2 linked regions of the Homo sapiens genome follow. The protein of the gene in region 1 purifies or fractionates together with the protein of each later gene. This does not show direct contact. Each region holds a gene or a part of one and is shown on either strand. Other genes may lie near its edges.

Region 1 (5,769 bases):
CAAAGATTCACGGAGGCTTAGAATCTGGATGTTTTATCCCCAGAGACTAAGGTCCATGCACAGGCTTACTGAAGCACAGTACTGATTAAGAGCTTAAATGTTTATTTAAAACAGAAATGCCAAACCACTCCACTCTCAACCTTTCAAGCAACCTGGCTAACAATAAACTAGTTCTTCTGCAACAATGTTAGAGCAGAGGAGTAACTCAGGTTATACTGTAACTCAAAAGCAATACTACTAGAAAACTTAAAACACCTAGCACTGCATAAAGAAAAAAAGCAGGACAAAATTTAAAGAGAATTAGCTACAGAAAACCATTCAAAGGCATTTCTACTGCCTCATCTTTTACTCCATCCCCCTTTGAACTGGTTTCTGTTTGCATACTTGTTTGGTGGGAAAAAAAATCATATGGCTGTCCCAGGCACAATATGGGAAAGTGCAAACTGTCTCTAAGGCACAGAACTTAGATTCTCAGCCAGATTAATAGCAAATCTAGACTTCCCAAGGGAATATGCTAGAGAAAATGACCACAGCGTTCCACTGCTAGGGAAAGGCTCCCCTATGAACAAGACCAGGGCACTCACCCACCCCCGGCACTCACTTTCACCCCACCTTCTCAGCAACCTGCCCATGTCCATCAGCTCCATGGCAGAAGCAATCCTCATGATGAACACCCAAACTGACCCAGCCTCTCAGGCCTGCTGAGATGATGAGCATGAGGATACAGGGACATGACAGGTCAATCGGTCCTCAAGAAAATCAAAGTTGCATTTACATGCTGAACCAAAACCCACTGTTACAGTTTATGACAACCCCCGCAAGTCCCCAGAACTTGCAACTTTAATCAAAGTTTGGCTGCTTCCCTTATTTCAAGAAAAGGTTTCAGTGATTACATTAGTACTAATGTACTAGGCTTCCCAGAACTGAGAAAACAATGGGAACATCAAACCAAAGAAGATCCCATTGAACAGAGTTGCCTGTCCCGAGCAATGGGGTTCTCCCCAAGCATCAGCCTTTATGCCACCAGTTTTGGAGAAATGGCAAAATTTCCATTGCACAAGACCTCCCACAATGTTGATAAGATTATCAAACATTTTGGTCTGGGGAAGATGAAACAAAATTAATTTAGCTGTTTATAGGAAGGTGGGATGTGAGACTCATCAAAGGTAGGATGTGTGACACAAAATACCACAGGAACATTTTACAAGGCTAGGTGGAAATACAAAGCTCACATCCTTAAGGAAACCATCAAATACTTGCCTAGAACTTTCTATATGAAGTTTTGTTCTTCTATGACACTATTTCTCTTTGGTAAAGCTAGCTTGTTTCTATCTACAAAGACACAGTGAGTACAGGATTAGAAGTGAGCTCTCAGCCAAATTCCTTTTGCAAGTTCTACCTGTTCTGTTAGGCTTCAGGGACTCCCAGGGTTTGGTGCTGGCTTTGGGCCACTCAGGTAGGAAAAATGATACAGATTCATTCGTTACCACATGGCTTCATAAAACACCAAAAGGGGAAAAATACTGACTAGACATTCAGAAAGAAAGTGGTTGGGGCTGCTGATATCAAGATCAGAACCCTAAGAGCCATGAAGGCAGAGGCTCAAAGAAGTCTTTTCATGGGCAGAAGACTGAGAGCCCTCTAAGCCCTCTCTAAGATACCAAGTAGAGGCAGCTAAAGGAGGACCTCTTCTCCTTCATGATTTTCTCTTAAGGCTATTCTGACTGCCCCATGGACTCAATTCTCTGAGACACCTCATCCCTCAGAGACACCTCATCCCCTCATCCACAGTTAGGAAATCCCACCCTGCATTGGTCACAGCCTGAAACACCAGCTGTGTGATGAGGAGGGTCCTGCCCTTTCTCTATTCCTCACTGAAGAAATTTCAATCAACCCTCAGAGGAAAAGCAACCTAAGCCTACCTTTCCTCCTAAAGCATTTAGCTGCACAGAGTAACTGAACTTTTTCGAAACAAGCCCTAGATTGACTCCATCAGACATATTTTCCTGGACTCAGGGCTCCCAAGAGGGCCAGACTACTTCACCACTCTGCAGAGGACACTGGGCGGGCCACACCTGATTCCAGCCCACTCCAACTTTACACTTCTCCCTCTCCCACCCAGAGGGGTAATGCCTGGTACTGAATTCCCAAGGCAGCTTCCAATCAATGGTGAAAATGATACATGGGATATAAGCTGCTACCAGCGCAATTAAGGTGAGCACTGTGTCTCCTCTTCAAAGGTGGGATCAACAGATGAGGTACAGAGCTGCTGTTGCTATGGCAGTCACTGATGACAAAGCCAGGGCCATGGGGGCCCTTCCATTCTCCAAAACAATAAAATCACTCCTAGATCCTATCTAAAAGGCAATGCCACTCTCCAAATGTACAAGGAAAGTGCTTCAGAGCCTCTGCCTTGCGCTCCTTTTCTGCAAGTGAACAAAGCCAGGAAAGCTGCTCTCTGCATTCGGTAAGTGTGCTGTGAAGTTCTTTGGGTCCCAGTCTCCTGGGGGCTCTACAGGCTCAGGAGACTAGAGGCTGGGTCTACAGGAGTCTGTTCCCAGGAGGCACCAGGAATCTGAATCTAAGTCAGGCTTTGGATCCATTTCCATCTCTTCCTTTGCTGTCTGAGTTCCTTTGGAATGCATCCCCACCTGTCCGGATAAAACACGGTTCCACATTAGCAACAGTGCCACCTAGTCACAGAAGTAGTTCAGTACTATATTTTCAATGCCAACTTCTAAGGCATTGGCTAAGGCGTGGCTAAGGATTTGTAGCCACGATCTTGTGAGACGCTCATGGCACTATTTTAGATACAGTCCATACCTTTATATTTACTGCAGGTAGGGTGACCAACTATCCAGGTTTGTCCAGGACTGCGGGGTTTCCTGGGATGCAGAACTCTTAGTTTTAAAATGGAAAAAGTCCTGGGCAAAACAATCTTCTCCCTGCTATAGCTGCCAATCTTACCTTGTGTGTGTGTGTGTTTTTGAGACAGGGTCTTGCTCTGTTGCTTACGCCGAAGTGCAGTGGTGTGATCACGGATCACTGCAGCCTTGACCTCCCCAGATTCAGGTGATCTTCCCACCTCAGCCTCCTGAATAACTGGGACTATAGGCGTGTGCCATCATGCCCAGTTAGTTTTTATTTTTGGTAGAGATGGGGTTTCACCAGGTTGCCCAGGCTGGTCTTGAACTCCTGGGCTCAAGCAATCTCCCAAAGTGCTGGGATTACAGGTGTGAGCCACCGTGCTCAGCCTGTATATTATTTTCTAAAGTAATTTCATAAACATTAGTTCATTTAATCCTCCAAAGAACCATACAAGGTGTCTATTATTTTCTTTCAGGTGAGAAACCAGGGCTCAGAGAAAACAAAGTAGCCCAAACACCTACAGCTGGCAAATGGCAAAGCCAAGGGCCTAACCCTATTTCTCTGCTTCTACTTCCCTCTATATAAAACAATAGCATGGCTCTCGAAAAATAATGCAAGCAGCATCACCTTTGAAGTATTTTCACTAAAAATGTTTAATGTGAATCTAATCAAGCCTTAGGTTAAACTTCCAGTTTTCAGAAAAGACAGGGTGACAGAAAAACAAGTTAGACAACACCCTGAGAAAACAAGACAAATCTAGAATGTGGGACATTCTGTTGAACAACTGCCCTGGTTTCTTCAACAAGTCAATGTCATAAAAGTATTTTTTTAAAAGGTGAAGCAGAGCATGGTGGAACATGCCTGTAGTTCCAGCTACTTGGGGGGCTGAGGTCAGAGAATCACTTGAGCTTAGGAAGTCAAGGCTGCAGTGATCCATGTTTGTGCCACTGCACTCCAGCCTTGGTGACAATGCAAGACCCTGTCTCAAAATAAATACATAAATAAGGCCTGGCGCAGTGGCTCACACCTGTAATCCTAGCACTCTGGGAGGCCGAGGCAGGTGGATCACGAGGTCAGGAGTTTGACACCAGCCTGGCCAATATGGTGAAATCCCATCTCTACTAAAAATACAAAAATTGGCTGGGCATGGTGGTAAGCGTCTATAGTCCCAGCTACTCGGGAGGCTGAGGCAGAAGAATCACTTGAACCCGGGCGGTGGAGGTTGCAGTAAGCCGAGATCACGCCACTGCACTCCAGCCTGGGCAACAGAGTGAGACTGTCTCAAAAAATAAAAATAAAAATAAAAATAAAAATAAAAATAAAATAATTTAAAAAAGGTGATGGTGGTGGAGGGAGCTGTTTTAGATGAAAAGAAATGAGACATACATATAATGTGGGATTCTTGACTGGATTCTAGTCTGATAAAAAATGGTTATAAAGGACATTTTTGTGGGGGAAAACTGGGAAAATTGAGGTATCAGCTGGATACTAGATGAGAATTGACAATACTAGTATTAATTTTTTTAGGTGTGGTTATAGTATTGTGGTTGTTCAGGAGAATGTCTATTTTCAGAGGTATGTAATTAAGTATTGTAAAAGAAAAAACATACACTAAGAAAAAGCAATGCAAGTGATGAAAATGATTCAATCTAGGTGCCTGAACAAGGCCCAAGGCTTCTGGGATTATAATTACAAAAATGGTATCATTAAAAACTAAGGATCGGCCAGGCGTGGTGGCTCACACCTGTAATCCCAGCACTTTGGGAGGCTGAGGCGGGTGGATCATGAAGTCAAGTGATCGAGACCATCCTGGCCAACACGGTGAAACCCTGTCTCTACTAAAAATACCAAAATTAGCCGGGCATGGTGGTGCACACCTGTAGTCCCAGCTACTCGGGAGGCTGAGGCAGGAGAATTGCTTGAATCCGGGAGGCGGAGGTTGCAGTAAGCCAAGATAGCACCACTGCACTCTGGCCTGGCAACAGAGCGAGACTCCGTCTCAAAAAAAAAGTAAGGACCTGCAAAGGAACAAGTCTATTTCAGTACTTTGTGTTTTGTTTCTGTGATTCTTCAAAACAGGCTTAGAAATTGGATTATTCTTTTAATGCTCTCACCTGCTGCCCTCCTTCTAATTTCTTGTTCAACTTCTGCAGTTGGGTAAAAATCTGGAGGTTTTCTTGCTGTAGCTTCTGTTGTTCAGCCAGACACTTTAACACCAGACCCTGCAATCTCTCAACCTCCACCTGCAGAGAGCTGCACGCACACGCAGGAGGAGTCAGTGGTGTTCCCTTCCCAGCACAGGTTACTGCAGGATTCAGCCGAGGTGACTAGAGAGACAAGAAGGAGATTGCAGGAGGTTCTGCCCAGGTGTCATAGCTCCTCAATCCAAACTTCCTCTAAGTGCAATCGGATTTTACTTTTAAATTAACAAGATAAATCATATATACACATGAATATATGTACGAGAAACAGAAATGCTAGGATTATAACAGCGATGGGCACTGACATAACATGGAAAGTGAACTCTCTGCCTCAGTCCCCATTAGGCCAAGGTGGGAGACCAATCATCTATTTTGGAGGACTTTGTGAAAAATTTTAAAGCACCTTGGTATCTTCTCATTTAAAATGCTGAAGTAGGGAAAAGCATGATTTGGTTTGGAACAAGTCTTTCAGATCACAGACCCAAAGGGTCAATATTCATGATATGCAGTGAATCACACTTTAGAAAAGATCTGAGAGGTGGTCAGTAAACAGGACCACCAACACAATTTAAGAAGGTGAACTGACAGAGAAATTAAAACATTCACCTTGAAGTTTCAAAGGTATTATTACCTCTTCTGGGAAGCTTTCTGATGATCCTAGTCTGGATTTTTCTCTTTTCTACTGTACTTTTTTTATAGG
Region 2 (4,896 bases), on another chromosome or scaffold:
AACAGATTGAGACTCTGTCTCAAAAAAAAAAAAAAAAAAATTGTATCTCCAAGAGATACATATAGTTTCTTATTTCTGGATAAAATATAATCTTTATGTATTTTATATTATATTATAATCTATATAATTTGCTTTAAAATTATGTAGGGTGGTTGCACACATAGGAACTTAGGTTATTCTGTATAATCAACTATTTGACTCATTGACTGGCACAGAGAGGGTGGCCAAGGTTCAATAAAATTAAGTTAAAAAACGCTAGGCATGGTGGCTCATGCCTGTAATCCCAGCACTTTGGGAGGCCGAGGCAGGTGGATCATCTGAGGTCAGGAGTTTGAGACCAGCCTGGCCGACATGGTAAAACCCCATCTCTACTAAAAATACAAAAATTAGCCAGGTGTGGTGGGGTGTGCCTGTAGTCCCAGCTAGTCGGGAGGCTGAGGCAGGAGAATCGCTTGAACACTGGAGGTGGAGGTTGCAGTGAGCAGAGATCGTGCCATTGCACTCCAGCCTGCGTGAAGAACGAGACTCCATCATAAAAAAAAAAAAAATTAAATTAAATTAAATAAATAAAAACAAAACAGAGAAAATACTCATTCAAGCCCCTCCCTGGTCAGGGCACTGATTCCAGCCCAGCTTCTTGCCACTGCCTGGCCCGTTCACACGCATAGTCTCACTTTTCCAATGAGTTTTTATTAGCAGGTAAGTCATGATTTAGGATCCTGGGGTGGGGATCACTGGGTACCAGGTCCCCCTTCACCATCCTGGGAGAAGGATGGAGGACAGAGGAAAGGGAGATGCAGCCAGTTCAGATCTTCCCGGGAAACGTGCCTTCAGCCCGTTGCTCATCCCAGTCTGTGACCTGTGGAAAGACAGTGTTATTCCCTCCGCAGTGGGGAAACTGAACGGATGGACTTCTTATCTTCCTCACTTTGCCCACCTGTTTGTTCAACCAATATCCACAGGTACCTGCTGTGTGCCAACCTCTATTCTAGAGGCCGGGGAATCAGCAGTGACCCCAAAAGACAGAAATCACTGTTCTGAACAAGCTGACATGCTGGGAGGAGAGTAATGGGCAGGAAAACCCCAGGCCCACTGCAGAGCTGTCGATGGGGAGATGTGTCACTGTACAGAGCTCCAAGGGTGGGCCCTGCTTTGAAAACCTCAAGTCAACACTATGCTGTTTGTCCAAACAGGGGAGATGGAATAGCAGGCAGCTGTGAAAAAAAACGAGGCTGATTTATGTTCTGGCATGAATGGATGGATCTTCAAGATACATAGTCAAGTGCAAAAAAGGTGCCAAACAATACACAGTGCAATCCCACCACTGACCACAGGCGATGCTCAGTATAAACAATGATGGAGGCTGGGTGTGGTGACTCGCACCTGTCATCCCAGCACTTTGCGGGGCCGATGTGGGAGGACTGCTTGAGCTCAGGAGTTTGAGACCAACCTGGACAACACGGCAAGACCCCCATCTCTACAAAAAATAAAAAATAAGCCGGGCATGGTGGCTCACGCCTATAATTCCAGCACTTTGGGAGGCAAAGGTGGGAGGATCGCTTGAGCCCAGGAGTTTGAGACCAGCCTGGTGAATGTGGCAAAACCCTGTCTCTACAAAAAATACAAAACTTAGCCAGGCATGGTGGCATGCACCTGTAGTCACAGCTACTAGGGAGGCTGAGGTGGGAGAACTGCTTGAACCCAGGAGTTCGAGGCTGCAGTGAGCTATGATGCTACCACTGCACACCGCACTCCAGCCTGACAGAGCAAGACTGTCTCTAAAAAAAAAAAAAAAAAAAAAATGAAAAGGCCCATATAAGGCCTATGTCAAGTTAACACTCCCTGAAAGTAACACTCTACTCTTTGTGGACCTCACAAGCAGTTACAAGCATAAACGTTTTTATATACATACACGCTCACATTTTATGCTATAAGGCAGGGGTCCCCGAGCCCCAACCAGTGCCTACCAGGTACTGGTCTGTGGCCTGTTAGGAACTGGGCCCCACAGCTGGAAGTGAGTGGCAGGTGAGCGAGACAAGCTTCAACTATATTTACAAGCACTCCCTAATGCTCGCATTACTGCCTGAGTTCCACCTCCTGTCAGATCAGCGGCAGCATTAGATTCTCTTAGGAGTGCGAACCCTATTGTGAACTGCGCATGTGAGGGATCTAGGCTGCATGATCCTTATGAGAATCTAATGCCTGATGATCTGTCACTATCTCCCATCACCCCCAGATGGGACCATCTAGTTGCAGGAAAACAAGCTCAGGGCTCCCACTGATTCTATAGTATGGTGAGTTGTATAATTATTTTATTATATAATGTAATAATAACAGAAATAAAGTGGACAATAAATGTAATATGCTGGACTCATCCTTACACCATCCCCAACCCTGTCTGTGGAAAAACTGTCTTCCATGAAGCTCATCCCTGGTGCCAAAAAGGGTGAGGACCACTGGTGCAAGAACGAACAGTGGATGAAAGCATGGATAACAGAGAGGCTGAATCTGAATCCCTGCTCCATCACTTCCTAGCTGTGTGACTTTGGGCAAGTTACTCAACCTTTCTGGGCCTCAGTTTCCAATTTTGTAAAATGAGGATACTAACAATAGTACCTACCTCATACGGTTGTGTTAGCATGTTGACCTTATGTGATGTAAAGTGCTAACATGGCTGGGCGTGGTGGCTCACGCCGGTAATCCCAGAACTTTGGGAGGCCGAAGCAGGTGCATCACCTGAGGTCAGGAGTTTGAGACCAGCCTGGCCAACATGGTGAAACTCTGTCTCTACTAAAAATACAAAAATCAGCTGGGCATGGTGGCAGGCGCCTGTAATCCCAGACACTCGGGAGGCTGAGGCAGGGGAATCGCCTGAACCTGGAAGGCGGAGGTTGCAGTGAGCTGAGATTGCACCACTGCACTCCAGCCTGGGAGACAGAGCAAGACTCCATCTCAAAAAAAAAAAAAAAAAAAGGTCTAACAACATAGCTGGCCCATAATAAGTGCCAGCGGTATGTGCCTACTTTATTTACATACACATACCACACCATAAAAACTCCATCCTTGCAAATTGACTCCTACTATATAGATTGTTCTGCAACTTACTTTTCCTGTGTCTTAGCATTCTTTCTGTGTGCTAGCATGTAGATCACCATAGTCTCCATAAAGACTATCAAGATCAATGTTTTAACTTGGGTTATTTCCAAATATTCTCCATTACGAACAACTCTGCAATGGGCATCTTTGTACATGAAGATTTTTGTAGCATCCCTAGATGTGGAATTGCCAAGTTAAAGGGTAATTTTTTTTATTTTGAAAGATTCAGCTGGGTGCGGTAGCTCATGCCTATAATCCCAGCGCTTTGGGAGGCTGAGGCAGGCAGACTGCTTTGAGCTCAGGAGTTCGAGACCAGTCTGGGCAACAAGGCGAAACCCCATTTCTACAAAAAAAATACAAAAATTGGGCCAGGTGTGGTGGCTCATGCCTGTAGTCCCAGCTATTCAGGAGGCTGAGGCTGCAGTGAGCTGAGATCATGCTACTGCACTCCAGTCTGGGCAACAGAGCAAGGCTCAAGAAAGAAAAGAAAGAAAGGAAAGAAAGAGAGAAAGAGTGAGAAAGAGAGAGCGAGAGAGAAAGAGAGCAAGAGAGAGCGAGAGGGCGACAAAGAGAGAGAGAGAGAGAGAGAGAGAGAGAGAGACAGGCACAGTGGCACATGCCTGTAGTCCAAGCTACTCAGGAGGCTGAGACAGGAGGAACACTTGAGCCCAGGAGTTCGAGTCTAGCCTGGGCAACATCATGAGACCTTGTCTTTAAAAACTTTTTTTTTTTTTTAAACAAAGGGCAGGGGCATAGCAAAGAGCTATTAAATATTGACGACAGATTTGGTCAGATCAGGGCTGAAAGGACTGTCTTACTGTGTCATTATTTAGAAGTCCACACTGAAGTAGGCAGGGGTGAAATGACGTGTCTGGGACTTGCTTTAGAATACTTCAGCAAAGGAAAGAAGAAAACGAAAAGGGGTAGATGAAGAAACCGTGGATAAATCCTGATAACTATTCACTTTGGGTGATGGATGTATTTGAGGTCAATGAATTATTATCTCTGCTTTGAAAATGTTCATAATAGGGCCGGGCACGGTGGTTCACGCCTGTAATCCCAGCACTCTGGGAGGCCGAGGCAGGTGGACCATGAAGTCAGGAGATTGAGACTATCCTGGCTAACATGGTGAAACCCCGTTTCTATTAAAATACAAAAAACTAGCTGGGCATGGTGGTGCACACCTGTAGTCCCAGCTACTTGGAAGGCTGAGGCAGGGGAATCGCTTGAACCCAGGAGGCGGAGGTTGCAGTGAGGCAAGATCGCGCCACTGCACTCCAGCCTTTCCAGCCTGGCAACACAGCAAGACCCTTGTCTAAAAAAAAAAAAAGAAAAAAAAAAAGAAAAAAAAATGTTCCTAATAAAAAAGGACAGGACTGCACAGAATTGTGAGCTACACAGGGATGGGAGCCCAGTGCTGAGTGTGTATTTGGAGAGTGCATGAGTGAGCTACATCTAGCAAAGCACCCTGGTCGCCTCAGCTGAGAGCCCTGACTGGTTGAGAGGCATCAGCAGAAGGAGACAGGGAGGTAATTCTAGGCGGGAGGAAAGGCACTGAGTCCTGGGACAGTGTGGTGCCCTGTCCTCCCTCTGCCCCTCACAGATGAGCTCCCACCAAGCCACCACACTCCCCTCTGCTAAGACCCCACCCCAGCATCCCAAGGGCCCTGGCAGGAGGCACATACCCAGGATGTGGGGCAGAGGGACTGGTACACACGCTGGTACCATTCGCACACAGAGATATCGCCTCCTTTAGCGGTCATTGCCTTCTGACAGCGGTGGAAGTCTGTGAAGAAAGGG

What was found. The genes of interacting proteins can lie anywhere in the genome.
Region 2: the proteins of NEK9 (region 1) and COX6B1 purify together in Homo sapiens (co-immunoprecipitation; one large-scale study listed by IntAct). This does not show direct contact.

The regions. Positions count from the first base shown.
Region 1 is NC_000014.9:75,082,036-75,087,804, forward strand, and holds part of NEK9 (serine/threonine-protein kinase Nek9), read right to left. Parts: intron 5,196-5,769; coding exon 4,983-5,195; intron 2,652-4,982; coding exon 2,529-2,651; 3' UTR 1-2,528.
Region 2 is NC_000019.10:35,654,557-35,659,452, reverse strand, and holds the end of COX6B1 (cytochrome c oxidase subunit 6B1), read right to left. Parts: intron 4,883-4,896; coding exon 4,782-4,882; intron 860-4,781; coding exon 806-859; 3' UTR 671-805; downstream 1-670. UniProt on the Homo sapiens protein: Component of the cytochrome c oxidase, the last enzyme in the mitochondrial electron transport chain which drives oxidative phosphorylation.